Regions from separate parts of the Homo sapiens genome. Here regions 2, 3, 4 and 5 are each reported to be linked to region 1. The links are microRNA targets in miRTarBase. Many come from high-throughput screens and were not tested one by one. Region 1 holds a microRNA gene; each other region holds the end of a gene's coding sequence. Distances are between the middles of the regions.

The links. Region 1 holds the annotated microRNA hsa-miR-331-3p (GCCCCUGGGCCUAUCCUAGAA, at 3,597-3,617, shown strand). A microRNA usually pairs through its seed, bases 2 to 8, with sites in the 3' UTR of a target mRNA and lowers its output. Matches are read on the target gene's strand: a 7mer-m8 pairs with bases 2 to 8, a 7mer-A1 pairs with bases 2 to 7 and ends in A, and an 8mer does both.
Region 2: miRTarBase lists ANKRD52 as a target of hsa-miR-331-3p. Seed matches in the 3' UTR shown: 7mer-m8 at 3,598-3,604.
Region 3: the mRNA of RARS1 is a reported target of hsa-miR-331-3p. The part of its 3' UTR that is shown has no 7-base or 8-base seed match.
Region 4: miRTarBase lists NELL2 as a target of hsa-miR-331-3p. The part of its 3' UTR that is shown has no 7-base or 8-base seed match.
Region 5: miRTarBase lists ATF3 as a target of hsa-miR-331-3p. The part of its 3' UTR that is shown has no 7-base or 8-base seed match.

Annotation. Positions count from the first base shown.
Region 1 is chr12:95,304,884-95,311,037 of GRCh38, forward strand. MIR331 (microRNA 331) reads left to right here and starts at 3,537; the gene lies at 3,537-3,630. MIR3685 (microRNA 3685) reads left to right here and starts at 5,040; the gene lies at 5,040-5,101.
Region 2 is chr12:56,239,119-56,245,272 of GRCh38, reverse strand. ANKRD52 (ankyrin repeat domain 52) reads left to right here. Exons shown (of 28, transcript NM_173595.4): 22 at 83-170; 23 at 284-367; 24 at 476-621; 25 at 838-920; 26 at 1,140-1,222; 27 at 1,397-1,488; 28 at 1,881-6,154. The coding sequence ends at 2,131. Among named protein-coding and RNA genes, the nearest start is that of SLC39A5, 12 kb to the right of the region's middle. RefSeq lists enhancers at 706-875, 896-1,065, 1,998-2,167 and a cis regulatory region at 980.
Region 3 is chr5:168,518,844-168,524,866 of GRCh38, forward strand. RARS1 (arginyl-tRNA synthetase 1) reads left to right here. Exons shown (of 15, transcript NM_002887.4): 15 at 238-458. The coding sequence ends at 347. Among named protein-coding and RNA genes, the nearest start is that of FBLL1, 7.4 kb to the right of the region's middle. RefSeq lists an enhancer at 1,858-2,027.
Region 4 is chr12:44,504,736-44,510,889 of GRCh38, reverse strand. It overlaps NELL2 (neural EGFL like 2), which reads left to right. Exons shown (of 20, transcript NM_001145108.2): 20 at 1,906-2,612. The coding sequence ends at 1,956. Among named protein-coding and RNA genes, the nearest start is that of NELL2, 370 kb to the left of the region's middle.
Region 5 is chr1:212,618,101-212,624,254 of GRCh38, reverse strand. ATF3 (activating transcription factor 3) reads right to left here. Exons shown (of 4, transcript NM_001674.4): 3 at 6,021-6,128; 4 at 3,480-4,897. The coding sequence ends at 4,700. Among named protein-coding and RNA genes, the nearest start is that of GARIN4, 3.3 kb to the left of the region's middle. RefSeq lists a silencer at 2,334-2,628.

The DNA.
Region 1 (6,154 bases):
TATCCCAGTTTCCTGCAGAGCTTGAACCTCTTTCAGCCCTAAAATTTTTTGGAATAATCTCTGAAGGAAATCTTCATAAAATTGATATGCATTACTGTCTTAAATAATATATGAATGTATTTTAATTTGTTTGGTATCAAAATGATCAGCATTAACATCACTTATTATAATCTGATAGACTAATCAGACATTGAGAGCTGTTTGTCCCTGTACTAAATGGCTCCATTCTGCTGTACTCGTTTTAGTTTTCATGTCTTTAACAGTCGTTCTGATTCTTCCATTTCTATTACTGCTTGCTTAAGTGTGCCTGTAGCAGTAGCCCTTCTCCACCTTCATAATGTGCCTTCTGATCTGCTTTCATTTTGGAGACCAGACAAACTAAGTTTATTAGACTTCTGTGTAAAGTAAGAATAAATAAACTCAAAGTGAAGACTTGAGGAAGTGGATTATGCTTAAATGCATGGATTTTGTGACATCTGTTACTTTACTACCTGTTTCATTGCTATCGTTAAAATAAGTGAAGCTACCGAATTAGATACCTGCTCTCAAAATAGAAAAGTTGTTATGGTACAAAAGGAACTATTTTGTTTACATACTTTACTTTCTCTAAAGTTAGTTCTATACTAGAATTATTTGGCGCTGATTAAAACTGGTCCACTCAAGTTAGCATTTTCTATAGTATTTTCTATTTGAATTGGAGACTACATGCTGTTAAGAATTTCTTTGGCTTTTTTTTTGTTGTTGTTTTGTTTTGTTTGAGACAGAGTCTCACTCTGTTGCCGAGGCTGGAGTGCAGTGGTGCAATCTCGGCTCACTGCAAGGTCCGCCTCCCAAGTTCACGCCATTCTTCTGCCTCAGCCTCCGGAGTAGCTGGGACTACAGGCGCCCGCCACCACTCCGGCTATTTTTTTGTATTTTTAGTAGAGATGGGTTTTCACCGTGTTAGCCAGGATGGTCTCGATCTCCTGACCTTGTGATCTGCCGTCCTTGGCCTCCCAAAGTGCTGGGATTACAGGCATGAGCCACAGCGCCCAGCCGGCTTTTTTTTTTTTTTTTTTTTTTTTTTTAAGAGAGAAATGTATCTTCATTTCCAAGACATGAAAATAGATTAAGCCCTGAAAAATAAGAAAACATTCACTATTAATGTCACAGAGACCTGAGAAGTAATAAAATTTATAGACTATAGGCAATTATACCACAAAGAATTTATTTTTTGATTATGCTAGTTTTAAAAACAGGGTCTTTATTTTTATTCAGCTATAGTAAGCGGACGTTAAAAGCTTACCAAAAGTTATCAGTGTTAGATCTAATGATATTGGCAGATATTTGAATGACTAAATTCCCACTGTCATTCTGTACTGGGCATGATTAAATTGTAATTTAATATTTAATAATTAAGCAGGATCACTTTTCTCTCTTGAATGAAAAATAAAATTTGCACACTATAATATTTACAAGTAAAAGTCAAATCTGTATAGAAATGGATATCCTAGCATCAAACAACTTATTTTTAGCAACATGCTGATTATTTTAGTAACCATATATTGACTCATGTTTTCATTACAAAGTAACTGTCAAATCAGTCTGTTTATTTTATGACCATGCCTCATAGTCGGCATTCAGTTATCCATGCTAATGGAAGGGATCTGTGGTATAATAATCATAAAAGATAAGTGGTCCAGGCTGGGCGCGGTGGCTCACGCCTGTAATCCCAGCACTTTGGGAGGCCGAGGCAGGTGGATCACGAGGTCAGGAGTTCGAGACCAGCCTGACCAACATGGTGAAACCCCGTCTCTACTAAAAATACAAAAATTAGCCGGGCGTGGTGGTGGTACCTGCCTATAATTCTAGCTACTCAGTAGGCTGAGGCAGGAGAATCACTTGAACCCGGGAGGCGGAGGTTACAGTGAGCCGAGATTGCGCCATTGCACTCCAGCCTGGGTGACAGAGTAAGACTTCATCTCAAAAAAAAAAAAAAAAGATAGGTGGTCCAAACCAGTTTCTTGAGTTGAGACTGCCATTATAGAAGAGATAGTCAAGATACCAAAGCCAGGTCAGTGATAAAAGAAGAAAACTTCTGAGTGTAGTTGTGAGAGGAAAGTGATTCTATTCAGTGTAATTGCTGTAAACCAAAAAGAGGATTAATTGATTCAAGGATTCACACATGTAAAAGTTTAGCATGAATAAGGAGGAACTGATTTTATAGATATTCTAAAATGTGTGATAAGCTAGGACGTAGTGGCTCACACCTACAATCCTAGCACTTTGAGAGGCTGAGGCAGGAGGATCTCTTGAGGCCAGGAGTTCAAGACCAGCTTAGGCAAGAAACAGCAAGACTTGGTCTCTACAGAAAAACTTAAAAATTAGCTGGATGTGGTGGCACACACCTGTAGTCCCAGCTGCTCAGTAGGCTGAGGCAGGAGGATCACTTGAGCCCAGGAGGCCACAGCTGCAGTGAGCCATGATTGCACCACTGCACTCCAGCCTGGGCAACAGAACGAGAGACCTTGTCTCAAAAATAAATAAATGAAAATGGGCTGGGCGTGGTGGTTCACACCTGTAATCCCAGCAGTTTGGGAGGCCCAGGTGGGCGGATCACCTGAGGTCGGGAGTTCAAGAACCGCCTGACCAACATGGAGAAACCCCGTCTCTACTAAAAATACAAAATTAGCCGGATATGGTGGTTCATGCCTGTAATCCCAGCTACTCAGGAGGCTGAGGCAGGAGAATCGCTTGAACCTGGGAGTCGGAGGTTTTGGTGAGCCGAGATTGTGCCAATGCACTCCAGCCTGGGCAACAAGAGTGAAACTCTGTCTCAAAAAAAAAAAAAAAAAAAAAAAGAAGGAAAATGAAATGTGTGATAAATTAAAGTGCATATAGTATTTTTTATGGTATATATTTTAATGTATTTTAGCTTGTCAGCAATGAAATTAGTTTTATCTCTATGTATTGAACTTCATTTAGCAACATATTATTGCAATAGTACAGTATTTAAGCTGCATATTCTCTTGACTGCATTATCCTTTAAAATCAGTATATTCTGTGAGATATGGCTATGGATATATATATTTCCTCTCCTATTTATATCCTAAGATTTTCTTAAAGGATAATTTTACTGTTTTAGGCTTTATGTTTTTCAGTTTTATATCATTTCCTAAAGCTTAGCTACCTACAAATGAATATTATTGAAGAATTTTTCTAAAACTAAAGCATGTCTTTTATAAGTTTACTCTTTTATAATATCCTAAACAAAGCATATCCTTTTCCCCTTCCTTAAGTAAATTCTTAAGGAAATTAACTTCATTTCTAAATCAAAGTATTTTCTGCACTTTTATTGCACCAATCTGTTACCTTCTGTTCATACCATGACTTAAATAATGCTTACTCAGGCACAGTACTATCAGCTGACAACGTACAGAAGGCTCCAGAAATGTCACTCCCATCCCTTAAAGGTTGGTATATGGTCCTGGTACAGTCGTGGAGGTCCATATGGGTGAAAAGCCCAGAAGTCTACCTGAGCTGAAAGCACTCCCAAGGAGTTTGGTTTTGTTTGGGTTTGTTCTAGGTATGGTCCCAGGGATCCCAGATCAAACCAGGCCCCTGGGCCTATCCTAGAACCAACCTAAGCTCGCGCATCATTCCTGGAACATCAAGAGTGTGAAGACTGAAGATAACCTGAGGCCTACCAGACATCCTATATTCACCAAGATTCACATTTTTTGGTATGTGTGCCTACATTTTAGCAAAAATTGGTTGGTTAATCCTTCTAAAATTAGAGGGATGACATTGGGTAACAAAGTCTTCCCAGCCTTTGGCATTATAGTAATTTCTCGCAATAGAAATTCCATACAGATATTATTGCCAGTGAAGAGAGCTATTCTTGTTTATTATCAGTTCTATATTTTTAGCTGAAGCAACTTAGCCCTAAAAAACCCCAAAATCAACTTCTTCCTCCAAATTAAACTCTCCCCCAAATTTAATGGTTTCTGTTTTCTTAAATGTTTTTCTACTTGACACTGTTATGTCAGTCTCATGTAACTGAATAATTGTTCATAATTTCTGAAGAGCATTTAGTCTTTGCCATCTGGCTTCAGTGCCAAATGATTTTCAATTCTTGTTTTTGGAGACTAATGACTTTTTCCTTAATTTATTATCAAATTTGCCACATTTTAGAGCTCACTTTTAGAAGTTCTGCTATGGTTAATGAAAACAAGCTAGAATGACACAGTAGAAATTGGTTAATACGTCACATTTTACATCACTATTTTGTAGAAGATTTTTAGTAAGTTTCTCTATTTTTATTCCTTGCCACTCTGGATTTTACAAATATTCTGACCTAGTTGATCCATCACATGGTCTCATATCACAACTGTTGCATCGCTATATTCACATAGATGTTTTTCTGTTTAATTTAGAAGACAGTATTTCTGAAAAAGTATGAAACGACCCCAAATCCAAAAGTTATGGTGCACAATGAAAATGTATGCTTTTAATAATGCTGGCTTCTGCAGTAGGTGTAGACCATGTTTCAAATAACCACAGACTAATCAGAAACTCCACCTGTGAAAGGAACTTGAAATTGTGCTATTCCTCCAAGCTTATAACACCAGCAAATTGGGTCAATAGGTTATTCCTTTAAAATAGGACTATGAGCCTACAGAGGCTCACTCTGAAGAACTCAGCCGTGGAGTTAGTTCTGTACTATATCCATCACAACAGACATGCTTCATCCCATAGACTTCTTGACATAGCTTGAAATGAGTGAACCCATCCTTGATTTATATACATATATGTTCTCAGTATTTTGGGAGCCTTTCCACTTTTTTAAACCTTGTTCATTATGAACACTGAAAATAGGAATTTGTGAAGAGTTAAAAAGTTATAGCTTGTTTACGTAGTAAGTTTTTGAAGTCTACATTCAATCCAGACACTTAGTTGAGTGTTAAACTGTGATTTTTAAAAAATATCATTTGAGAATATTCTTTCAGAGGTATTTTCATTTTTACTTTTTGATTAATTGTGTTTTATATATTAGGGTAGTACATTTCCTACCCTACCTGAAGACTTGAGATTATAGTCTTTGGGGGGATGGGCAAAGTACTCTCTTTTTTTGCATCTTTTAAATTGTGATTTTTAAAAACACATATAAATTTTACTATCTTAACCATTTTTATGTGTATAGTTCAATGAGATTAAGTCCAGTCACATTGGTGTGAAACAGATCTTCAGAATTTTTTCATCTTGCAAATCTGGGACTCTATACCCATTAAACAACTCCCATTTTCCCCTTCCCCACAGCCTTGGCAACCATCATTCTACTTTTCTCTATGAATTTCACTACTTTAGATACCTCATATAAATGGAATCATACAGGATTTGTCCTTTTGTAGCTGACATATTTCACTTAACATAATGTCCTCAAGGTTCATCCATATTGTAGAATGTGATAGGATTTCCTGCCATTTTAAGGCTGAATAATATTCCACTGCATGTATTTACCACATTTTTTTATCCATTCATCTGTTGGTGGACGTTTGGGTTGCCTCCATCTCTTGGCTATTGTGAATAATGCTGCTGTAAACATGAGTGTGCAAATATCTATAATTTTTTAACACAGTACTTTATTTTCGGTATTTAATCATATGGAATTTTTGTCAATTATGTTAAAGGATTTTACAACAACCCAACTATAGATTTATATATATATGTATTATTGTTGTTCCTTCTAAGCTTAAGAAGTCTCTAATAAAATCCATACTTCCTTATATCTTTTTGTGTGTGTACCTTTTTTATTCTGCTCTTTGCCATATGGATTAATACCAAAAGGTAAAAATCCCTTTTCCTTCCTATCTGTTTTTCTTCCATTATAGTATTTTTCAGAATTTGTTAATATGCCAAAAGATGGCAGTTGTCTGGGAAAGCCATTGATTCATTACTCCAAGTTTTGTTTGTTCATTTAAGTGCCTCATATGATAATTTATCACAGTGAAAACAGCAGTGTAAATTTTAAAGTTCCATTTTTGCCATTCCCAGTGATTGTTAGCCACTGAATACATTCTGGGCATGTTATATTTATTGACTTATATAACCTCCTTGACAGAAAAGACACTGACACCAAGAAGGTCATGAACACCCGATGAAGCATACTTTGACA
Region 2 (6,154 bases), 39 Mb from region 1:
GTGGAATGGAGTGTCAAGACACAGGACAGACAGGGAACCTTGCCGTTTTTCTCCATCACTACTCTTCCTTCCTCGTGCCCAGGACATGAAGATTGTCTGGAGTTGTTACTTGAACACAGCCCGTTTTCGTACCTGGAAGGAAACCCCTTCACTCCTTTGCACTGTGCAGTGTAAGTCCCTTCTGCTGCATCAGCCCTTCTCGCGAGGGCCCATGACTTGAGCTTAGGACAGGTAGTCTACTTCCCTTGTCCTTCCTGATGACCCCTCCTCCCTCTTCCTCTAGGATTAATAACCAAGACAGCACCACAGAGATGCTACTGGGAGCTCTGGGTGCCAAGATTGTGAACAGCCGAGATGCCAAAGGACGGTGAGTGATGGAAGACTTGGGAAGAATCCCAGTTGCCTCTGGCTTCCCCTTTCTGCTTGGGCAGTATACTCTTCCCTATTTTAATCTACCCTGATCCCTGCCTTACAGGACCCCCCTTCACGCCGCTGCCTTCGCGGACAATGTCTCTGGGCTCCGGATGCTGCTGCAGCATCAAGCTGAGGTGAACGCCACTGACCACACTGGCCGCACTGCGCTCATGACGGCGGCTGAGAACGGGCAGACCGCTGCTGTGGGTGTGTAGGGGCCACTTGTGGAAGGGAGGAGCTCCCCTGGGGCATTTGCAGGATGGGTCAGCCCTGCCTGTGGAGGCTGGCTGGGGCTGGGGTTCAGAAAGCAAGAGGGTTGTCTTTGGATGTCTCGCCATCTGCAGACGGGATGCAAAGTGGAGAGCCAGGATGGCTACTGCTCTGGAGGGAGGGGTCAGTCCCTCTATCACATTTCTCTCGTAGAATTTCTGCTGTATCGAGGGAAGGCAGACCTTACTGTGTTGGATGAGAACAAGAACACGGCCCTCCACTTGGCTTGTAGCAAGGTACTTACCTGAAGTGATTGGGGGACTGCATAAGGGGCAGAGCTTGATGAAGAGAGGTAAGTCTCGGTTGCAGAGGGGACTGGGGCAGAAGTGAGGATTGTCCAGCCTATCCGACTGGTTGGGCAGCTGTTTGTCCTCCTGTTACTCTCCCCAACTCCTGCCCTGCACCCTGCCACATTTCTACTTCACAAGTCTCCACTCTCTGTTCCCCTCCCTCAGGGCCATGAGAAATGTGCCCTCATGATCCTGGCAGAAACCCAAGACCTTGGCCTTATCAATGCTACCAACAGTGCGCTGCAGATGTGAGTGCCTGGGGAAGGGGGCTCCTGGCTGGGGGAGGCCAGTGGGTGATGAAAGAGTGGCCGCTGTTCAGAGGCTCTCTGGAGCCCATTGTATTTGTTCAGCACCCTTGCCACCCTGTCTGGAGGTGGAAGGGCAGCTTAGCATCAAGCTCCTTCTTTTTCCTTTTTTCCAAGGCCACTCCACATTGCTGCCCGGAATGGTCTAGCTTCTGTGGTACAGGCCCTGCTGAGTCATGGGGCCACAGTGCTGGCTGTGGATGAAGAAGGTGGGTGGGGTCTGGGGCCCCATGCCTCTCTTGGGTTTGGGGTCAGGGACATTCTTCAGGAGGTGACTTCTTAATCTTGCTATACATGGGATTTTCTTCCCAAGGGAACTCTTCAGAGCAGGGAGCCCACACCAGTACTCTGGAGTCTCAGAGGGGAGCCTGCAGGGTCAGGAGGACTCCACACCCTAGGCTTTGACTCCCATGCCCGCCCTTTAACCCGTACTTAGAGAATCTGCCTGTCAGCCTTCCTGGGCCCTCGTCACCCTTGGATTCTGCCGCTGCTGGGTACCTGCCTGCCTTGGCTCCCTCCACAGAGAAGAGACTTCAGGGCTTGGGGGAGGCTGGCTAGGATACAGGACTCTATGCCTCAGTTCTCCCCCTTGGCCCTGCAGGTCACACCCCAGCACTGGCCTGTGCCCCCAACAAAGATGTGGCAGACTGCCTGGCCTTGATCCTTTCCACCATGAAGCCTTTCCCACCCAAGGACGCCGTCAGTCCTTTCAGCTTCAGCCTGCTCAAGAACTGCAGCATTGCAGCCGCCAAGACGGTGGGTGGCTGCGGCGCCCTGCCCCATGGGGCCTCCTGCCCCTACAGCCAGGAGCGGCCCGGCGCCATTGGGTTAGATGGCTGCTACTCTGAGTAGCCCCCTCCAGTGTCCCTCCCCCGCCGGTGGCTTGATATCTAATTCTATTTATTTAGAAAAAGTCTAAACATTTAGGGCACTTTAAAGGAGAACACGACTGGGTGGAGGGGGCGGAGGGGAAGGAAGCCCTGGGGAGCAGCTGCTCACCCCTTTGCCACACCATCTTGGCCTGGCAGGGGTCTGGGACTGACAGGGAGCACCCCAGGCCCTTGGTACCCCCAGGGCGACCCCTTCTGCCAAGTGTCCCAAAATGATTGCTAAATGCCTGGCTCCCCCACTCTTTGACTCCATCTCTTGGTTCCCTCTTTCTGCTGCCAGCTCCCCCGACTCTTCCCTGGGGACTCCTCTCTGTGTCCCCCTTCTCCCCTGCCCCTACTGCCAGGCAGATCCCCTCTTCTTCCATACCCATCACTGCCTCCCTGCTCGGCCGGTCCCTCCATCCCCGCAGCAGTGAGAAGCCTTAATTTCTGGTACTGTGTGAGCACTCTGGGGGTGTCCCCCTCCCCCCTTCAGGGGCAGCTAGAGGATGAGGGGGGAGGATATTTAGCACTGGGGCCTGGAGCTTTTTCCCCACTTCTGTACCCTATCACCCCTAAAGTTCAAATGCAAAACACTTGAAGCAGCAACTACTGTACCTGGGCCCCAATCCTGCACTCTCCCCTGGCTCCTCATATGCAAATCAAGGGCTGGTTCTGCCCCCACAGCCTGCCCCCTCCCCATTCCCTCCCACTCCTAGCCTGGCCCCTAACCACGCACTTTAACCTTGCTTCTTTCTTTTATCTTCTTTTGGGAGGGCAGAGCCTGTGGTCATTCCTGCCCTGGCTCTCCTTCCCTTGAACTTTGAGGCTTGTCATGAATTTTTAAGTAAGCGTTTTATCCTTTAGGGGAAGAAACAAATTAATTTCCTGCCCATTTCAAAACCACAGCCCTAGTATGTCCACTGTGTTTCAGGCATGTGTTTGCATGTATATGGAGGGAGGGACCATGTTCTTCCTCCTGTGCCGCCAAGCCCATAGTTTATCTGTGCTCCCTATCTGCCTCCACCTTCCGTTATGTCCAAGAGTACCCACTGCCCCAGTCACTCCTGATCTGAAGCCAAAGATGGTAGGAGGGGCAGGGCCGACAAGGGACCGTGGCTACTCGGGACCCAGGCTTCCCCTCCAGTGTGAGGAAGAAGCTCTGACCTAGAGAGAGATGAATAGGTACTGGGGCTTGGTCCCTGCCTTCCCAGCAGGGAGGAAAGATGGGATTGAGCTGGGGGCTGCACTGATAAGATTTCTAAAGTCGCACCCCAAAAGCCAAACTGGGCTGGAGTGAAGAGGGGGCAGTTTTCTCTCTAAATGTAGCATTGAATTTGGCCCTGGTCCCTTTAAGTGCTCTGTCCACCCATCTCCTAGTGCAGCCTCCTGGACAGTTGGACCCACTCCTGCAGCCCAGTGTTCCCTTCCTCACACTCAATACCTCAGCCAGGGGCCAAGACACAGAACTTGAATAGAGGTCATGCCCCCTCCGCCCCCACACTGCATCCTTGCCCAGTTTGGCTGCCATCAGTATTGTCCCCTGAGAACTGGACAGGCTTCGTTTACACAGTACAGGGTCTCCCCTGAGGGGGGATCCTTCAGCCTCCCTCCCCTACTCAAGTTTGCTTTATTCACAGTCTTACCCATCTTTTAGTTGTATACCCTGAATGTCTTGCCACCCTTGTCAAGGGTGGGCTGAGGGGAGGGGGGCGTCCCAGGGACCCCCTCCCTCCCCAACGGATACCTTTAACCATACCTCATGCTGGTTTCCAGAAGCCTGGGGTGTTGTCCAAGTCCTTATCTTTTCATGGTCCCTTTTGATCCCCTGTCTCTCTGTGTTTTGCTTCTCCCAACCCTCAGTTCCTAAATCATTTCAAGGCTTCCAAATGACCATTATTGATGAGAAGGATTGTGCAGCTTTTAGTTTTTATTTTTATTTTCAAAGCCAAAGGGCCTTGTGACGCCCCTCTTGCCCACCTCCCTCCACACCGTGTCCTCCCCTATATGACAATCAATGTGACCTCTCTTAAGGGCTGCAGCCCCCATCCCCAACCCTGCTGGCTCTGCAAAGCTTGCCTTCCCTTCAATTCTCTCTCCTGAAATCTTCCCATTCCACCCCCTCCCTCTCATCTTGGTGCTGGGAATTAGGTGGTGGGGGGCAAGGGGAGTGAGAAGATGGGTCCTCCAGAGAGAACTTGCCGGGTGTGAGTCGTGTTCTCCTTTCGTGATGTTTGGTGATGGCGGGAAGCGTCTGAGTGTCAGAGCCCCGTTGTCTTGCTAGATGAGATTTCTGGGGGCTGTCTGCGCCCTGCTGCCCTCAGCGCACTGTCAGCAGTGCTGGGAGGTGGTGGGGAGTCCTCTGTCCCTCCATATGTGGCTGTGAGGAAGCCTGGGGGACAAGCAGCCTCCTCTCCTTATGCCAAAGGAAACCCCACGCCCCACCCTGGGCTCCCCAGCCCTAGTGTTTTTTGAAGCATTTTGACCATTCTCATGGCCACTGCATATTTATTTTAATGTTAAGATTTTTTTTAAACCTCTTTGACTTAAACGGGTGTGGAGAAGTAAAACAGGCAGAATGCCCCCCAGTCTTCATGGGGGAGGGCGGGGAGGGAACAGCGCCTTCCCTTTGCCCTCCCCCTCCCCCCTCTCCCCACCGCAGCCCTAAAGCACTTGCTTCAAGTAATAAGCACTTTTGTGAAAAGGCCTATTTTAAGCGAGGACCCTGGGAGCAGCCCCAGGTCCCAGCAAAGGAAACAGAGCGAGGGCGACATAGGAGACAGGGAAACAGACGTGTGAATCAGAGGGTGAGATGGAAAGAGCCAGTTTTTAGTTTCTGATTTTGGGGGAGCTATTTCTGATTGGGCGGTGGCTCTGGTAGGGTCATATACTATCCTTCAGAAAAACGAATGGCACAAACCGTGGGTCCCAGGAAGGACCAGCAGACCCGGGTCACTGCCACTGTCCACTGAGACTGACGGGCCACCTCCCCTGCCCCGTGGCCCCCTGAGCCATAGGACTGCTGAAAACCACTGAATGTACAGCCCAGGTTGGGGTGGGGAGCAGCCCCTGGGGGAGGGGGCTTCTCCTTTTGTTTGGTGCTGTGGGGCGTGGGAGAGAAAAGACTGAGGGACTGCCACCCCACGTAGATGTGTTTCTTGGGGTGGAGGGGCTGAGGAGGGCCTACCTCCCTCTCCAACCCCAGCCATGGCCCCTCTTCCTTCCTCACCCCTATCCGTTTTGACTGTAAGTCCAGCTCACCTTTGCCTTCAATATGTAACCAAAGGAAAACTCAATACTGTTTCCACCACTGTCTGCCCACCCGAGCACCTTCTTACTCCCTGGACCTAGAAGGGGAGAAGAGGCTGGAGGTGGGGTGGATGGGGCCAGAGTGAACGGTTCTACAGCTGTATCCCCAGAACCTCCTCCAGGGTCTTGGAAGGAGTCCTGAGAGGTGGGATTGGGGCCGGGCTGGCAGGGCTGAGTTTGCGCACTGTGTATCTTATGCACATGAGTGTTTTTGTCTAAATGACTCCAGTGACTGCTCCAGCGGGGAGGCCCCTTCCTCCTTCCCTCTCAGCCATTTCTCACCCACTTCCCATACCCAGTGTTCATCCCCTACCTCCCCTTCCCACCGCAAAGGAAAATAGCCTTACAGACCCTAGCCCAGAAACCCTACTCCTGGGGCAAACCAGTATGGGCCCCCATCCCGCCTAGTTTGAACCCTACCTTTTAAGAAGGAGGGATAAGGAACAAAGCAGCCCCTTCCCCTCTAATTGTGGTGGCTCCAGCCTTCTGCAGCCTTGACCCAGGTTGGGCAAGGGCGGAGGTGAGGAATCTTTGAGGACCAAGCCCAGTGGTCTGGGAATCGGGAGGTAGAGAGGGAAGGGTCTGCCTTGGGGGCTCCCTCCTCCCAACCCAACCCCTAGAGAAGCGACCAAATCCCAGAGATGGGGTGAAGCTGGGGTGGGGAGGGTCTGCTCTTTGAATTACTTGAAGGTACTGA
Region 3 (6,023 bases), not on the chromosome of region 1:
CATTGCAGACCTTATATCTCTTAATAGTTAAAAACACATTTCTTAACAGAAATGCCTTTATTTTTTAAATTGTTTGTCTTCATAGTTTAAGGTAAAGAAGATTCTAGTTAAAACCCAAAAACATCTGTGGGTTGGACTATGCACTTCTAACTAAAATTTGCAAGTAACATAGATTCTTTAATAATGATTTTCAAAAAGGAAAACAAGTTAATTAACAACTTTTTTCTATCTTTTCAGGAAAAATATTGAAGGTGAACATGTGGCGTATGCTGCTATGTGAAGCAGTAGCTGCTGTCATGGCCAAGGGGTTTGATATCCTGGGAATAAAACCTGTCCAAAGGATGTAATCCTTCATAGGTTTGAACACTGTGTGTTTTTACCAAAGTGGCCATTGGCACTGTTTGCTTTTTTACAATCATGTGGACACAAGCATAAGTAAAGAAAATTTGTCAACCAGGCAAAATGTGGTTCTTTAACAGCTAGAATTCTAAAAAGAAAAAAATCACTTCCACAAATATGCTTATATCTTGCTGAGCATTAAACCAAAATGACTTAGTGGAGGCCATGAAATAACAGGATTTATGCACCACAGTGAGAGTGTATTGACTTTGCAGGAATGTGGTTTATTAATTTTAATTAGATAAGGAATCCCATTTGTTGACCCTGAAAGGGCCCCAAGAATTTACGCCTCTTCATTGTCCCATTCATGTCTCATTTCATTGTTCTGTGAGAGATACTTAGCCTGTTTTACAAGTAACAAAACTTGAGACTGCACAGAGATAAGTAATTTGCCCTGGAATCCTCAGGAACAAAATTAAGATTCACACCCGTGCATGTTTAAAATCCCAAATTCAGGCTATTTCCATTTTAAGAGAAGGTGACATTGGCAATATAACAGACTTGGGTTCGGGGGAAGGGGGCAAGGAAATGTAGACTGGCAATTTTCCTGAAGCTCAAGATTAACTCTTAACATCTCATTGGCCAGATGCCAATCCCAGTTGCAAAGGAAGGTAGAAACCTAGAGTGAATGTCCAAGCTAAGAAGAGGATTGCTGTGATTTCCCTAGACCAGTCACAATTCATCCCCTGGGCAGGGCATATTGTCTCATTTCATGAAATTGGAATCTTTGTAGCAGCACAGAATATGGAGATTGGCAGTGGCAGCGAGAGGTTTTGGGGTACAGCTCCGCACACTGATTATTGAGTCAGCAGTTAATGGAATCTGCCAACACAAAACTGAAATGAGATTCCATGTAAAGCCAACACAATAGAAAAATGAATGTTTAATGAGCATGAATTGTATCATACCATGCTGTTTCTAAAAGTCTCCAAGCTTAGAGGAACCTTAGAGAGGATCTTAATGAGCTATAATAATAGCTTCCATTCACAAACTGGTATGTATAAGTCTAACATGTCCACATTAGATCGCTGCTCCCTCCAACAAACATGGGGAGGCTAAGCAGTTTCCTCTCACTCTACTAACTGCAAAGACAGTTCACCTAGACTACTGAGCCCTTGGGTCCGAAGACTCAGGAGACTTTAGGAATTAAAAACAAGATTCAGCCGGGCATGGTGGCTCACGCCTGTAATGCCAGCACTTTGGGAGGCCGGGGTGGGCAGATCACCTGAGGTTGGGAGTTCGAGACCAGCCTGACCAACATGGGGAAACCCTGTCTCTACTAAAAATACAAAAAATAGCCAGACGTAGTGGCGGGCGCCTGTAATCCCAGCCACTGAGGAGACTGAGGCAAGAGAATTGCTTGAACCCAGGAGTCAGAGGTTGCGATGAGCTGAGATCGCACCATTGCACTCCAGCCTGGGAGACAAAGCAAGACTCCGTCTCAAAAAAAAGAAAAAAGAAAAAACAGGATTCAGTGAGGTGGAGGAGAAAATAATGAAAGACTACAGGAGTATGTTAAATTAACCAAAGGTCATGATAAGTTCGTATACTGGAACATCATCTCGGATACCCCAGGCCATAACTATATCTTTAAAACACTGTCTTACCATAGTTTATAGATATATAAATACCATTTAATAATACAGATAATATCAGAAACCTTTCCTTAGGAATAGTATAGTTCTGATTCTCCTGTTTTTGTTTATAGAGACGAGGTCCTCTTCTGTTTTCCAGGCTGGAGTGCAATGGTGCCATTGTAGTTCACTGTGACTTTTTTTTTTTTTTTTTTTTTTTGAGACAGAGTCTCACTCTGTCACCCAGGCTGGAGTGCAGTGGTGCGATCTCGGCTCACTGCAACCTCCATCTCCCGGGTTCAAACAATTCTCATGCCTCAGCCTCTCAGGTAGCTGGGACTGCAGGCATGCACCACCATACCCTGCTAATTTTTTGTATTTGTAGTAGAGACAGGGTTTCACCATTTTGGCCAGGCTGGTCTCGAACTCCTGACCTCCGGGTGATCTGCCTGGCTCAGCCTCCCAAAGTGCTGGGATTACAGGTGTGAGCCACTGTGCCTGGCCATTCACTGTAACCTTGAACTCATGGGCTCAAGTGATCCTCCTGCCTGAGTCTGTAGTAGCTATGACTACGGTTGTGCTGATTAGCCTGTTTTTAATGTGCTAGCCTTTGGAAAAGCAAAGCCAGTTTGACTTCAGATAATCCTTAATCTCATGTAAGTCGGTGGGCCTTTGTGACCCTCAAATTTGCCTTCATTTGACCTCTAAAAAAAGTCAAAATAATTTTTTATTGGTTAATAGACAAAACACAATTTTTGCCAGGCGTGGTGGCTCACGCCTGTAATCCCAGCACTTTGGGAGGCTGAGGCAGGCGGATCACGAGGTCAAAAGATGAAGACCATCCTGGCCAACGTGATGAAACCCCATCTCTACTAAAAATACAAAAATCAGCTGGGCGTGGTGGCACACACCTGTAGTCCCAGCCACTCGGGTGGCTGAGGCAGGAGGATCGCTTGCTTGAACCCAGGAGATGGAGGTTGCAGTGAGCCGAGACAGCACCACTGCACTCCAGCCTGGGAGACAGAGCAAGACTCCATCTCAAAAAAAAAAAAAAAAAAAAAGAAAGAAAAGGAGAAAAACACAATTTTCAGATGTTCACTCATTTATCCTAACAAATGGGATGATCTTTCTGTGACCTCAAGCTTATTTACTGCATTCTAGGAAATTACAATACTATATATCAATAGCTCTAAACACTATAGATTGCAAGATACTATTGTTTTGCACTACTAAAAAATTTTGACAAACTTTTAAACTGATAGAACTTTCGTAAGTTAGAATTTTCATACTGAAAAGAGTCTTTTAGACTTTTGTTTGTGTCATGTATCACTTATGTACAAACTTAGCACAGGAAAATACAACTGAACTAAATTGGTTAAAATACTCCTAAAACTTCAGAGTCCCACTCTTTTGAGACACTTTTTGATGCAGTCATTAACATCTGTCTTTTCTAGACAATATCATCCTCTATGCTACCAAAAACATTGATGATGCAGCGCTTTGATGTTCCACTATAGTTCCCAGGATTATTATCTGAGTCCTGATATTCATGTGAAGGCGGCGATGACTATGTCACAACCGTCATCTGACTAATAATGACTGTGAGATGCATCGCAATTTCAGAAATGTTCAAATGTACATCCCAAAATTGATTAAACACCATAGTGTGAGGAATGAGGAAAATTAAGTTGGTCAGAAAACGTTTGACTTGGTATGGACCAGTGTCTCCACGTAAATATAAATTCTCCTCATTCCATTCTTTAATTTGCAGGGACCTGTTTGCTGAGCTAAGATCCATTACCTAGGTCTCTACTCAGTGCTTTTCCAAACACAGGGCTGCCTGAAGACTTCCGTCATCCAAAGATAATCTGGTTTGCTGGAATTCAGTTACTCTCCCCAATCCCACCCCCCCCACTGAGAATTCTAGTGCCAGTCCTACCTTCCACTGGCACTTCACAGGGCCAGTGGAATGACATTTAAAGTGCCAAAAGGGGGGGAAACTGTCAATCAAGACCTCTATATTCAGCAAAGCTATTCTTCAGAAAGGAAAATGGTATTAAGATGTTTCTCAATAAACAAAAAGTTTGTCACTAGAAGACCATCGTTACAAGAAATGCTAAATGTTGAAATGTAAGGACCCTAGACTAACAAAATCACACAACACCAGTAAAGGTAAGTACATAGTACAAAATATATTTTAAAAGTGTAAAAGATTATAAAATCAAGTATGTAGAAGTATAAAAATCAATAGTAATGCATTTTTTGTTTTTAACTTTTTTCTTAAAAAGCAACTGCGTATTAATAAACTGAAGAGGGAAATAAATACCCCACATGAACATCTCAATAGATCAGAAACAAAGTTGTCCACTCTTGCCACATCTACCTATTCAAGATGCCTTTAGTCCCAGCTACTCTGGAGGCTAAGGTGGGAGGATTGCTTGAGCCTGGGAGGCAGAGGTCACAGTGAGCCGTGATCATGCCGGTGCACCCTAGCCTGGGTGACAAAAGTGAGTATGCCCAACTAATTTTTGTATTGTAGAGACAGGGTTTCACCACGTTGGCCAGGCTGGTCTTGAACTCCTGACCTCAAGTGATCTGCCCACCTCAGCCTCCCAAAGTGCTGAGATTACAGGCGTGAACCACCACACTGCACCCAGCCCACACTTATTCAAATAAATTTTAAAAGCAGATTTAAACTAGGGCATAAATGGTACAGAGAAGTTAATATGCATCTACAATTTTATGCTAATTTTCTCATCATTTTTGACTTTGCTTCTTGGCCAATGTCAGCCCAAAATGGCCAGTATTAACCTTTCTAGAAAATCGGCTAAATAATATTCAGTTGATGGAGGTAATTATCTTAAGTGCAATGAGCCAGGCACAAACAGGCAAATATCACATGTTCTCACTTATATGTGGGAGCTAAAAAACAATTTTTTTTTTGAGACAGGGTCTAGCTCTGTTGCCCAGGCTGGAGTGCAGTGGCATGATCATCACAGCTCACTGCAACCTCCACCTCTCGGGCTCAAGCGATCCTCCCAGCTCAGCCTCCTGAGTAGCTGGGGCTACAGGCATATGCCACCATGCCTGGTTAATTTTTGTATTTTTGGCAGAGATGGGGTTTTGCCATGTTGCCCAGGCTGGTCTTGAACTCCTGGGCTCAAGTGATCACCTGCTTCAGCCTCCCAAACTGCTGAGATTACAGGCGTGAGCCACCGCACCTGGCTGGAAGCTAAAAAATTTGATCACATGGAGGTAGAGAGTGGAAAAACAGATAACAGAGACTGGGAAGGGTGAATGGGGGCAGGAGGGAAGATGAAGAGAAGTGGGTTAAAAGGTACAAACATACAGGCCTGGTGAGGTGGCTCACACCTGTAATCCCAGCACTTTGGGAGGCTGAGATGGGCAAATCACCTGAGGTCAGGAGTTCGAGACCAGCCTGGACAACATGGCAAAACCCCGTCTCTCCTGAACACACACACACACACACACACACACACACACACACACACACACACACACACACACACACACACACACACAGCCAGGCATGGTGGCATGTGCCTTTAATCCCAGCTACTCGTGGAGCCTGAGGCACAAGAATCACTTGAACTTGGGAGGAGGAGGTTGCAGTGAGCTGAAATCACACCACTGCACTCCAGCCTGGGTGACAGAGGGGGACTCCATCTCAAAAAAAAAAGAGAAAGAAAAAGGTACAAACATACAGTAAGATAGGAGGAACAAATTCAATGCTTGATAGCTGAGCAGGGTGATGATACTTAATAAAAATGTACTGTACTCCCATGATGGATACTTTAAATACCGACTTGATCACTGTGCCTTATACATGTCACAAAACTTCTCATGTACCCCATACATTTGTACAAATCAAAAAAATACTTGGTCGCATTATAGAAATTTCACTGGTTAATGAGAGTACATGGGGTCATCTAAAGTAAAACAATTTTTTGCTTTGTTTTGTTGCTTGGTTTGCTTTGCATTTTCATACCAGTTTAATTACATAAATATACATGGTGCTTATAAAATGTA
Region 4 (6,154 bases), 51 Mb from region 1:
CAGAAAACCTGTGCCTCTGAGCCGGCACCTCAGAGTGGCCTTTGTCAGACAGGAGAGGCAAAGATGGTTCCAGCCTGGGGCATCTTGGAGATTCTAGGGCACAGCTGAGTTCTACAAGTCTCAATCGAACAGTTCTGTCTCTAGGAATATGTTAGGGGCTGGAGATATGATGACAAAACTTTAAAATGCCACTAGGGGTCTAAGAAATGGTTGAGTCTGTCACTGCCAGAATATGAACTCAGCTTAATAATAAGTTAGAAAAGATGCAAATAAGTTAAACTGATAATATTCTTCTTGGATATATACTGGCTTTTTCCTCATCAGTGTGCTTTAGCAAAGGCTAGACTATCAAAATCTTTTCAGGTTTCCTTTTATAGAAACAAAGACACTTTCAGTTTTTATCATATTAAAGTATAATGCATTTCAATCATCAAAAGCCAATTTTCTGAGAGAAACTATATAATGGAGGATGTATTTTAGAGTCAGGCTAGCCTGAGTTTTAATCCTAGCTCTACCATTTACTAGCTGTGTGATTTTGGACATGATATTTAAGCTTTCTGATCTTCAGTTTCTGAATCTAAAACGTGTGACTATTAATAGGAATCCAACTGGGAATGCTGTGCGGTTGAAATTAGATAATGTATTTTAAATGCCTGGCAAAGTGTCTGACACAGAGTACACACTTAAGGAATGGAGGGATATTATCATCATCACGGTTTTAAAAACGATATTAACATTATCTATGAGTTAGCTGGTTGAGAAAAGTAAGAGTGCAGGGAATCAAAAGAATAGGATAGAAGGTTTTTCTTCTTTGTACAACACTATATTGTTTTGATACCTTATATCAAAAACTAATTATGCATATCTGGCCCTTCCCTGCCTATTTATCCTATTTCATCACCACAGTTTTCTTCCCTAACTGAAAATTCTTACCCAAAGCTTTTTTTCAGTTTCTTAACTACACAAAACTCTCCTCTGTGCGTTTGGCCACCTTTTCATGCAGTCTCCAGGTCTCGGTTTAAATATCACCTCACAGAACAGTCTACCCTGGACATTGACTAAGTAGCTAGTCTTTTATTAATCTCACACAACCACCTAGTGTATTTCCTTTTGTCTTAGTCAGTTCAGGCTGCTGTAACAGAATACCATAGACTGGGTGGCTTAAACAACGACAATTCATTCCCCACAATTTTGGAGGCTGAGAAATTCATTTCTCACATTCCAAGATCCAGACCCTGGCAGATCTGGTATCTCCAAGGACACACTTCCTGTTTGCAGATGGCCATTTCTCATTGTATCACATGGTAGATAGAGAGAGAGGACGCATGTGTTCTCATCTTTTTGTAAGGGCACTGATCCCATTCATGAGTGCTCTACCCTCATTCACTAATTACCTCTCAAAGGCTTTACCTCCTAATACCATCACACTGGGGATTAGGATTTCAACATGTGGGTTTTAAGAGGATGCAAACATTTAGTTCATAGCACCTTTCTAGCACTTTTCACAATTTTTGATTATATGTTTGCATGGTACTTACTAGTTTTCTCCCTAGATAAACTGCAAACCCTGCTCTGTGAGGTTAGTGACCATGTCTGCTTTATTTATTAATATACTTAGTGCTTACATAGACTTAGTACATATTTTGCAAATAAATGAAAGAACAAATGTGATACAGAGGATGCCAATGAGTAAATAAAGCCAGTTTATGACTTCCCACAAATACAATGGGCATAATAATTGAGTCTGCAATAGTAGAGTCATGAAAAGTGATTGGGCCATTGAATTTTTAGGAATGCAGAAATAAATTATACAGTTTTGTTTGTAAGTACCAATCAATAAATGTGATCATTTACTAATGGCTTAAAAATTCATACTGTTTTTCTTTCTACTTTTTTTAAATCTAGAATGGCCACATCTGTTGCTCAGTGGATCCACAGTGCCTTCAGGAACTGTGAAGTTAACTGTCTCATGGGAGATTTCTGTTAAAAGAATGTTCTTTCATTAAAAGACCAAAAAGAAGTTAAAACTTAAATTGGGTGATTTGTGGGCAGCTAAATGCAGCTTTGTTAATAGCTGAGTGAACTTTCAATTATGAAATTTGTGGAGCTTGACAAAATCACAAAAGGAAAATTACTGGGGCAAAATTAGACCTCAAGTCTGCCTCTACTGTGTCTCACATCACCATGTAGAAGAATGGGCGTACAGTATATACCGTGACATCCTGAACCCTGGATAGAAAGCCTGAGCCCATTGGATCTGTGAAAGCCTCTAGCTTCACTGGTGCAGAAAATTTTCCTCTAGATCAGAATCTTCAAGAATCAGTTAGGTTCCTCACTGCAAGAAATAAAATGTCAGGCAGTGAATGAATTATATTTTCAGAAGTAAAGCAAAGAAGCTATAACATGTTATGTACAGTACACTCTGAAAAGAAATCTGAAACAAGTTATTGTAATGATAAAAATAATGCACAGGCATGGTTACTTAATATTTTCTAACAGGAAAAGTCATCCCTATTTCCTTGTTTTACTGCACTTAATATTATTTGGTTGAATTTGTTCAGTATAAGCTCGTTCTTGTGCAAAATTAAATAAATATTTCTCTTACCTTATAACACATGTGAGTCTGAGTATCTTGTTTAATATGTTCCTCTTTTCCACAGATGATTCTATAAAAATTGCATTCTAGTTCTGCTGATGATAAACTCCTGCTATGTTATTTCTAAATTGAAAGTTGCTATTTCCAAATTTCCAAATTGAAAATGATATGCCTAAGTAAGGGATGTGATGGATAACTTAGTTCTTCCTCTCTAGATCCTCAATTTCACCCTTTCTACCCTGCTGTGCATCCTGGGGTGGCTGACCTATACAGACCCTAATAGTGGGTTCCTTTTCCTCTTGATTCTTGTCTGGTTTCAATTATACTGCAGCAGGAAACACAGCTGGCATATTAGGAAGAGGTCAAGTTTGGATATTTATTCCGCTGGCTCCCTTCCTGCCTGGCCACCGCCATGATTTGGTGTGTCACCTTACTGAAGGTTATATCTCTTGAAAGGTACTCCTCTCTGTCTCACTGCCTCACCAGGTTCTGATAACTTCTACTGTTTGCATCTTCTGGCTTAGGGATATTAACAGCTCTGGCTATTCTGTCCTTGGGAGGTAACTGTTCAATCTTGTTTTCTCTATTTCTAGGCATATCTTTATAAATGGTCCCTTTGTTATACTCTTTAATTAGCCAGCTTGAGTGTGCCATCTGTTTCCTGCCAGGATTCTAACTGATACACATAAGGAGAGCAGTATGTGAGGTTGAGAATGTCTTCAAGAATTGGTCCTTCACGTTTTGATATAAAATTTTTAAAAATATCAATGTTAAAAGATATTATGATATTAATTACATGTTAAATATTTTGATGCACCAGAATGTCAGAGGGGATAAAAGTAAACATCCTGAAACTCAATAAAGGAAGCCAATCCAATATTGCCCTGTTATGTTTTACACTAGGGTGAAAAGGAAATATAAGTATTGTCAAATTAATTTTCGATGCATAGAGGCATTTTTTAAAAAAAAATTAAAATGAACACAAGGTGACCACCGCAAGCTACAGAAATGATAAAGTGGCTTTTAACTGTTCACTCACTATTGCTATGGAAACAACCTAGCACGAGCTGAGTTGAAAGATAATTCAAAAATGTCTTCATAGTTTGGCATGGTAATATTTATTGAATGTGTAAAATCAAGTAGCTATATTCCCTGAATTTATCATAAATGATTTTTCTGTAGCCTTTTTATGTTTAATTTAATTTAATTCAACAGAGCATAAGGTTTATTTTTTGTCAGCTGTATTACAATGGTAAATAGCAATTTAGCTTCCAAGAAGATATCTGTTAATTTGAAGTTTTTTCAAGTTATTTTTTCCTTATATAGCTTTGTGATTTCATATTGAATCCTCCTGAAAAAGTATACTTTACTCATTTTTATAAGAGAGTAAGAAATGTGTGTAGGAAAGTGTGTGTGTGTGTGTGTGTGTGTGTGTATACACCCATATAGATACATATTTGTCATTTAGATATGTCCTTCTGGAAGGAGAAGCAAGGCTGGAATTTTATATTACAAATCCTTTGGAAATCTTTGTAGGGCTCTGGGCATATTGGTGGCTTGCAGATCCTTGGTTTCTATAGGCCGCTGAGTGAAAGAAAACTCATAGTTAAGAAGAAAAGAAGGAAAATACAAGACTATGATAATTCAACGACTATTAAAGCAACACATGAATTCAGATTGAATTTTTTTTTCTTCAAGGTTTACTCCACAAATAGTAGATTCCCCAGGAGAATTACTGTTTCATGTGCAGGCCCTGGGCAAGCAGTAATCAATTGTTTCTTAAGAACTTTGTTCCTTGAAAAAGGGAAGGTTAATACCCCATTTCTCACTCTGATGATAATTGGCAGAATGCCATGGCTGAGTTGTGCCAATATTAAGGGAAAGTGAGAGCTAAGAAGCATGAATTTATTTTGAGGGTGCTTAGCTCCTTTAAGGGCAGGCCTTGGTGAAAATAGTCTTTACTCCATTTTCTTTATTTCCCCTTTTCTGCAAAAAAAAAAAAAAAAAAAAAAAAAAGAATATTTCGCTATGATTCTTTGGTTTAGTAACCTGTATAGTTTATCTCCCTTTTTAAAAGACTGCCATATTGCTTTTTTTGGTTTGCCTTATATAATGGTAAAAAGAGTCATGCATTTGTTCAATTATACTGCAATATCATGGAACCCTTTCATCCTTCCCATAACTTGGTTATCTATAGCCAAAGTTGAAACACCCTGTAAATTGCCTTTACAAAATGAATGGCATATCAAAGCTCTAAAACAGCAGTCAATACTCTTGAGTGTTGGAGTAGCGGAAGTTATTCAGTTGAATAAAACTGAGGTTACATCTACTGAATAAAATATGAGCTTCAGTTCACTAAGCATGACCTCATCTATCAAAGCTCCACATTGCTGACTAGTTAGGACTTCCTCTGAAGGTCGGCACATCCCACAGATACCTGCATGGTCCCAGTCCTGTTGATGTAGGTAGCTTAAGGATTGACAATACCAACTGTTCTTAAAGAAAGACTTTTTATTTTCCATTTTTTCAAATGTAGAGTGTTGTAGCTCAACAGTAAATTGATCTCTTGAGAGAGTCATGCCAAAAGCATCCCTGAAGACAGTAAGTGGATGCTGTGCTCTGTACCCACTTTGTTCACTGTGGTACCTGGACACTCCCTGTCTGCAGTCACCATTGCAGTGGAGTTGGCTCCTTGTGGTCTTACTGACATTTCATTACTGCACAGTTTTCTACCCTAGAATTCAACATTTTCCATAAAGGAGTTGTCACCTCTTTGCAGAATAATTGCCCTTACTTAATAGACCTGCAGGTAGAAAGTCAGGAATTCCTTGGGCTACAGTAGCTCCGGATTGGTGGTGACATAAGTAGGCAAGGAATAGAACTATTGGAGAAGTTTGGAACAGGATAATCTGAGTTGCAGTTTCTTATATTCTCTCTACTTGCCAGGCTGGGACAACTCCCCCATATCTTTTGTCTTTGTATTTGTATTAAATAATTGTTCACAGAGATTGTTTGCATGACAGAGTCTGAAATTTTTATTTATTCCAAATGATGGATGGCACGCTATGTTACTGCCACCACCAATATATTGCATTTAAAACATGACCTCTTATTTATCTCCAATGTTAGGTGTTTTAGAAAAGCAGCCTGAAATAAGAGTATAATTCTATGTAAAAGCAGAAATGATAGTGAGTTTATTTTTGAGGCTTTTTCTCTTTCTTTCACAAAACCACAGCCATAGAGAAAGAAAAGAAAAATAATGAACAAAGTATGTGCAAAGCATAAGCATTCATTTATTGCTGACTCATAAAGTACATGTCCTAATGGAGGAGAAAGAAAATCAACAAATAAATAGATACCATTTCAGGTGGTGATAAGAGCTAGAAGAAAAGTTAAGCTGGCTTGGGATACTGTTGTGGAGAGGGGTGATCATTTAGGTTGGTTGGACAGGAAGTCCTCTCCACAACAAAATAGTATTGGGGCAAATACTTGGATGAGGTGACAGCATGAGCCATTTTCATACCTGGAGCCATTTTCATACCTGGAGGGAAGGAGTTA
Region 5 (6,154 bases), not on the chromosome of region 1:
ACCCCAAATTCAAAAGATTCAGCAACTAGGCAGAGTCTACAGGAACGCAAGATGATGGGATAAATTTGAACCATTTGAGTACACGGTTTAAATTTTTTTTTAACCTAGAATTCGCAGTCTTGGTTCTTAGCCCACTCTTCCATAAAATCTCAGTTCATGCTGACAATGGAAATCTTTAGTAATAACCTCAACCTTTAATAATAACATGAGAGATTGCTTCTTCTAGGCGCCATACTATGTATCAAACTCCATTCCAGTTTGATACTATTGCAACGCTTCTCATCTTACAGGTAAAAAAAACCTGAAGTTGTGAAACATACCTGCATTTGTAGAACTCGTAGGCAGTGGAGGTATTATTTGAATACAGGTCTTGCTGCTTTTAAAATCTTCCTTCTGAACCACTACAGAACTTACAAAAAAAGCTTGGGCAAGCCAAATAAGTTGCATAATTAATTCTGTGTGTGTGTGTGTGTGTGTGTGTGTGTATGCATGCATGTTATGGAGAATCCAGGACAACCACTTCAGAAAGGGGCTGGGCTGAGTGGGGGATTAAATTATCCAAGGGGCCACCTCTATTTCTCCTCCATCATGTTTATACCAACATCCTGTGTCAGGGAGCCCAAATATTTTCTCAAGGCCCCCAGTGTTTGCCCCGTGCCTCTTCTTACCCCCTACCCTGTGAAATGCCGGGAGAAGAGGGTAGGATGGAAAGTGTGAGCTTACATTCCAGGAGCCTATCAAAGGCCCTCCTCTACTAACCTCTCTACTATGCAGAAGTACTTTGGAAGCCATTTACATCCATGGGGAACAGGTGCTACTATACCTCCTGCCTTGCCATGCCCACAGAGCGAGCCCAGGAATAAGTAATTTCCAAGCTGTTACCTGGAAGTCCTGAAAAGGAGCACCTGCTTCCAACTCTCTTTTCTCCCAGCTTGACATCAGGCCTGAAATCCTACCTTAGAGATTCAGTTCTTGAAGATAAAGGCTAGCTGTTTCTTAACATACACACACCTGTCTATCAACTGATGAATGGATAAACAAAAAGTATAGTATCCATACAACAGAATACTATTCAGCCATAAAGAGAAATAAGGTACTATTACATAATACGCTAGGCTGACACTTGAAAACATTATGCTAAGTGAAAGAAGCCAGCCGTATTGTGCGAAAGGCCACATATTGTATGATGCTATTTACATAAAATATCCAGCGCAGGCAAGTCCATAGAAACAGAAGACAGATTAGTGGTTGCCAGAGACTGGAAGGAAGGGGAATGAAGAGTGACTCCTTAATGGGTACAGGATTTCCTTTGGGGACAGTGAAAAAGTTCTGGAACTAGATAGTAATGGTTACACTGCATTGTGAATGTACTTAATGGCACTGAATTGTACACTTCAAAATAGTTACAATGGCAAATTTTTTGTATATCTTACCACGCACACACACACAAATGTATATACTCTTGTTTGAAATCATTGCTGTTGAAAACAAGCATAGGCTTCAGCTTTGGAAAGATCCACTGTGAGACCTCGAGCAAGTTACTGAGCTCTCCACTCCCTCATCTGTAAAATGGGGGTAGCAGTTGTTGTGAGGATTAAATGGGATAATACATGTGAAGTGTTTAGTGTATTGTCCTACGCAATAAATGTTAGCTTCTGTTAGCATTAGTCCTCAACAGTCCTTTTAACCTCAGTGTAAATTCCTCCCTGAAAGCAGTGTTTGATGAGACTGTGTTAAAATCTTCTGGAGTTAGAGCCACCATGAGAACACAGGATGCTCAGTGGGCAAATGGGACCTCCTTTCAGGCAGATTCTAATTGGAAACGCTGTTCACGCCACAAAGAAACAGTACATGAACCCAACCAGAGGTTACGGGACAGGGAAGAGAGGAGAAAGCTTGATATGGGTTGGAGTGTTGAGGGTTTATTCAAAGCCCATGGGGAGAAATTAGGATACAGATGGAAAATAGTATTTTAGTTAACAGAAAGTGGAAAGATTCCATTCCAGAACTCCTGTCCTGGGCCAGAACCCTTTAAAAGCTCTTGACTCTGAAACAGGTGTCAGGCCAGCTCTCAGGGAAAGCCAAAGGGGCAGGTGGAAGGCAAGAGAGAGGAGGGAGGGTGGCTTTCCACACCCTGGCAGTGTGACATCACCACTACCAACAGGAGACAGCTCAGTGCAGACACTGCCAAACCGGGTGCTTGATATTGGTGGTGGCCCCATCTAAGTTTATTCTCTCAGATCCCCCCACCTTCCCTTTCCTCTAAATGTGAAACAAAAGAAACTAAATGCCTTGATGGTAAATGCATAGTCATCATCCTTTTTAAAATTAAAGTATCAAAACATAAACTTGGCTACATAAAACAATTTTTAATGCATTTGTGATAGACCTTCATTTACACTTACCATACACATCAAGTTTTCTTGCCATAGCCACCATCCGCCCCCAACTTCCTTCCTCTCTAATCCATTGTTGTTCCTGGCAGCTTACAAATTGTCTTGCGTTTCATAATGGCTGGTGGCTGGTGCCTCTACCCATAACTAGAAGGTAAATGCAAGGGATGTTTTCCCCTCCACCAAGAAAAGGAACATAAATTATCCCCTGAAAGAAGTGCTGAATGGTATTAACATCAGATGGCTCTTGATGGATTAGGAAAGACCCCTGATGTGCAATTCAGAGAGTAAAATGAAGACACCTGTGTCTTAAGTGATCATTTAAAGGAAACATACATGAGGTCAAAGAAGTAGGCACAGAATTCATGTGTACGAATCTGACATTTAACGAAGACATTCTTCTCTGAAGAATGGCACCAGCGGCGAGTGGCCAGTTTTTATGTCTAGCCTGTGAATGTTATAGAGAAGCACAAAAAGCAAGGGGGCCTGGCTCTCTTGCAGGCCAAAGGAATCATACGCCCTGGAAATTCCAGGAAATTCAGTGGAATGTCTTTCTTTGAATTATCACACCCATGCTGTCTAAAATGGTTCTTTCTTCCTCCGGTACCCCTTCCCATTCTTTTCTGATATGTATTTGCAACAATGAGACACACGTTTAGACATGAAACAGATGTAACTCAAGTGAGTAACTCTCTGAGACGAGTTCTGTGGCAGAATGTTAGGGGTCAAAGGTTCAAGCTGAACAACAGGTGTATGTTTTAGGTGTTTGTACATTCAGAGAAAATAATTAAGGTATCTAGCAATTCAGTTGTACATCAAAATTCTAAACACCAAACTGTTGATCTAAAGGATATATTTGGTGCCATGTTTCAGGGTTTGTCAATGAAAAATTGAGCATCAGGTGCCCAAGACTGAGGAACAGGACTGAAAGCCAACTATCCCATCTAGTGATGCCCCAAAGAGCAAAGGATGACATCTGGAGAAGTTTAAAGCTAGGCACCCCCCATAATGGGGAGGGAAAGGCAGGGAATCGCTAGGTCTCAGCAACCGACAGATTTAAATGAACAGAAACCAGCACAACACATGTTTACCATGTCTTGGTTCCAATATTTATTATTCTGACAGGTTAGGAATACTAGGATAAATAAGTAATATTTTCTCTTACAGAAAATTGTAATGATACCATTGAGTACAATTAAACACTCTGAGAATTTCACAGAAACATCAGAATTTTAATAGACAGTAGCCAGCGTCCTTGTGGCCAGTGTGAGTGACTTCTCACAGCTGCAAACACCCTGGGCCAGATTTCTTAAAACAGCTACATGACAAAAACAATGCTATTGACATCCAATAATGCTAAAGCCTGGGTACCACCCAGGCTCCACTGACTGTGGTTTCCAAACATCTCTCCACTGACTGTGGTTTTCAACCACAAGGAAAGGAAAATGGAATATTCTTTGGCTCTTCCAGCCTAGACACAACTCCTGACCTAAGACATTGAGTGGAGAGTCCTAACCCTTTGGAAGTTGAACTTTCTGCTTTCTTCCTGTGACTTTGGAACTGAGTTTGCAACAGAGGACCTGCCATCATACTGCCCATGGATTTTGTGTTAACGCTGGGAGAATTCTGTCCTCCTCTTGCTGACAAGCTCTTCTGGCCACCTGAATATCTTGAGATACTGCACGTGGTGACAGCCCCGCCCCCCAAAACTCTTAGAAACCAGATCTGAGAAAAAGCATATAAAAGTCACATCAGTGTTGTGTGACACAAACATCGGAAGAGTACATTGCCTAGTTTTCTTGCACACACAATTTCTGGACATAACAGCATATTTGCTAGAAAGCACAACCCTGGCCGTTGCACAACTTCACTAAATGCTGTTCTCACTCCACATCCCCTACGAGTGACAATGGTAGCCACGGTGAAGGAGATGGCCCCATCCCTCCCACCCGAGGTACAGACACTGCTGCCTGAATCCTAACGGTGGGCATCCTGGTTTTTTGTAGAATCCAGATGAAAGGCGGGCAGGACACCAGCTGGGGGCCATCTGGAACATAAGAATGGCCAGTGTGTTAAGGCCTAAATCCTGGAGTTGAGGCAAAGATGCACTTGCCCTGGTCCAAGACCCACTCTGGGGCAGAATGGGAAGGGCCTGCTGAATCACTGCAGGCCCTCCCGCCTTGATGGTTCTCTGCTGCTGGGATTCTAGAGGTACACAGGAAGACAGCTCTCCAATGGCTTCAGGGTTTTGGGTATAAAATGAGGATTCAATGAGGACTCCCCAGTCGCCCCCATACCACGACTGCTTAGCTCTGCAATGTTCCTTCTTTTATCTGTTGGATAAAGAGGTTTCTCTCATCTTCTGGAGTCCTCCCATTCTGAGCCCGGACAATACACGTGGGCCGATGAAGGTTGAGCATGTATATCAAATGCTGCTTCTCGTTCTTGAGCTCCTCAATCTGAGCCTTCAGTTCAGCATTCACACTTTCCAGCTTCTCCGACTCCTGGGGGACAAGCAACAGAGGCATCAAGAAAGGAGCCAAGGGCCAGTGAGGAGGGGGTGGCCTGGGCTGCTGCCTGGATGCAGGGGTGTACCTGGGACACACCGGGGCTCATCAAGCTGCGAGAGGAAGATGGGAGATGGGAGAGCAGCACTGGGTTTAGGAAAATGCAGACCCTCTTCTTCAGAGAAACCCTGGTGATGCCACAGAGGCGGCCTGTGGCTCTGCTAATACTGAAGCTGCAGTTCAGATACCTCATTTGCATGAGTCAACAGCCCATATGCAGGTCTTCTGGACCCAAAAGGGCCTTGGGAGCTGGGGAGAAATCCAGACTTATGGTGGCTTAGTCGATTCTGAGTCACAGATCTCAATGAGAAGCTCATCTCCCCAGAAAAAATGTATATAGCAACACACAAAATTCCCTAATTTTCACTGATCCCCTGAAGCAATCAACAGAACTTTTGGGGATCTGTGGGACTTGGGCTAAGACTCTGTCATGGCCTGTCCACATTTGGAGGAGGGACACAGCCACTGGAAAGACTGCTGAGCACCACCGGCCACCCTGCTTGCCCACAAAAGCTATTTCCCCTAGTGTCTCTCAGGCGGGCCGGCTGAACGCAGCCAGGGGCTCAGCTTACTGGCTAAGCCAGGGAGAAGGGCTCTAGAGTTAGGAACCAGACAAGAATGCAAAGCAAGTGTAACCACTGCTTGTGGATTAAGGAAATAACTTGTTTGAAGAGATTAATTAAAGGCTTTTCATAGTGAGCCAAATGAGAGCTGGCAGCTTCCTTTTCTCAGGAAAACAGTCAAGTGAAGCCTCTTTAACTGGGCTGGCATGTCCTGCAGCCTGGAAGCTGATGGACATGTATGAACCGGCCGAGGCTGCTGGGAGTCAGGCATCAGACGAATTCACACACCTGTTTTTATACATCCACCGTCACATCCATTGTGTTAACTGCTTTGCCACCTCCTCATTCTGCAACTGGCATTTCTGCTACCAGCTACAAGGCCCTTCTTGGGAAACTATAACCAAGTAGGGGGTTTTCTAACTCTTCTTCTGATAGCCACATGAAGCTGGTGAAGACAGGCGTGAGCGAGAGGAAGGGTAAGGCTAGAAGGCACTCACTTTCTGCAGGCACTCCGTCTTCTCCTTCTTCTTGTTTCGGCACTTTGCAGCTGCAATCTTATTTCTTTCTCGTCGCCTCTTTTTCCTTTCATCTTCTTCAGGGGCTACCTGTAAAATCCAAAAGAAACACATTT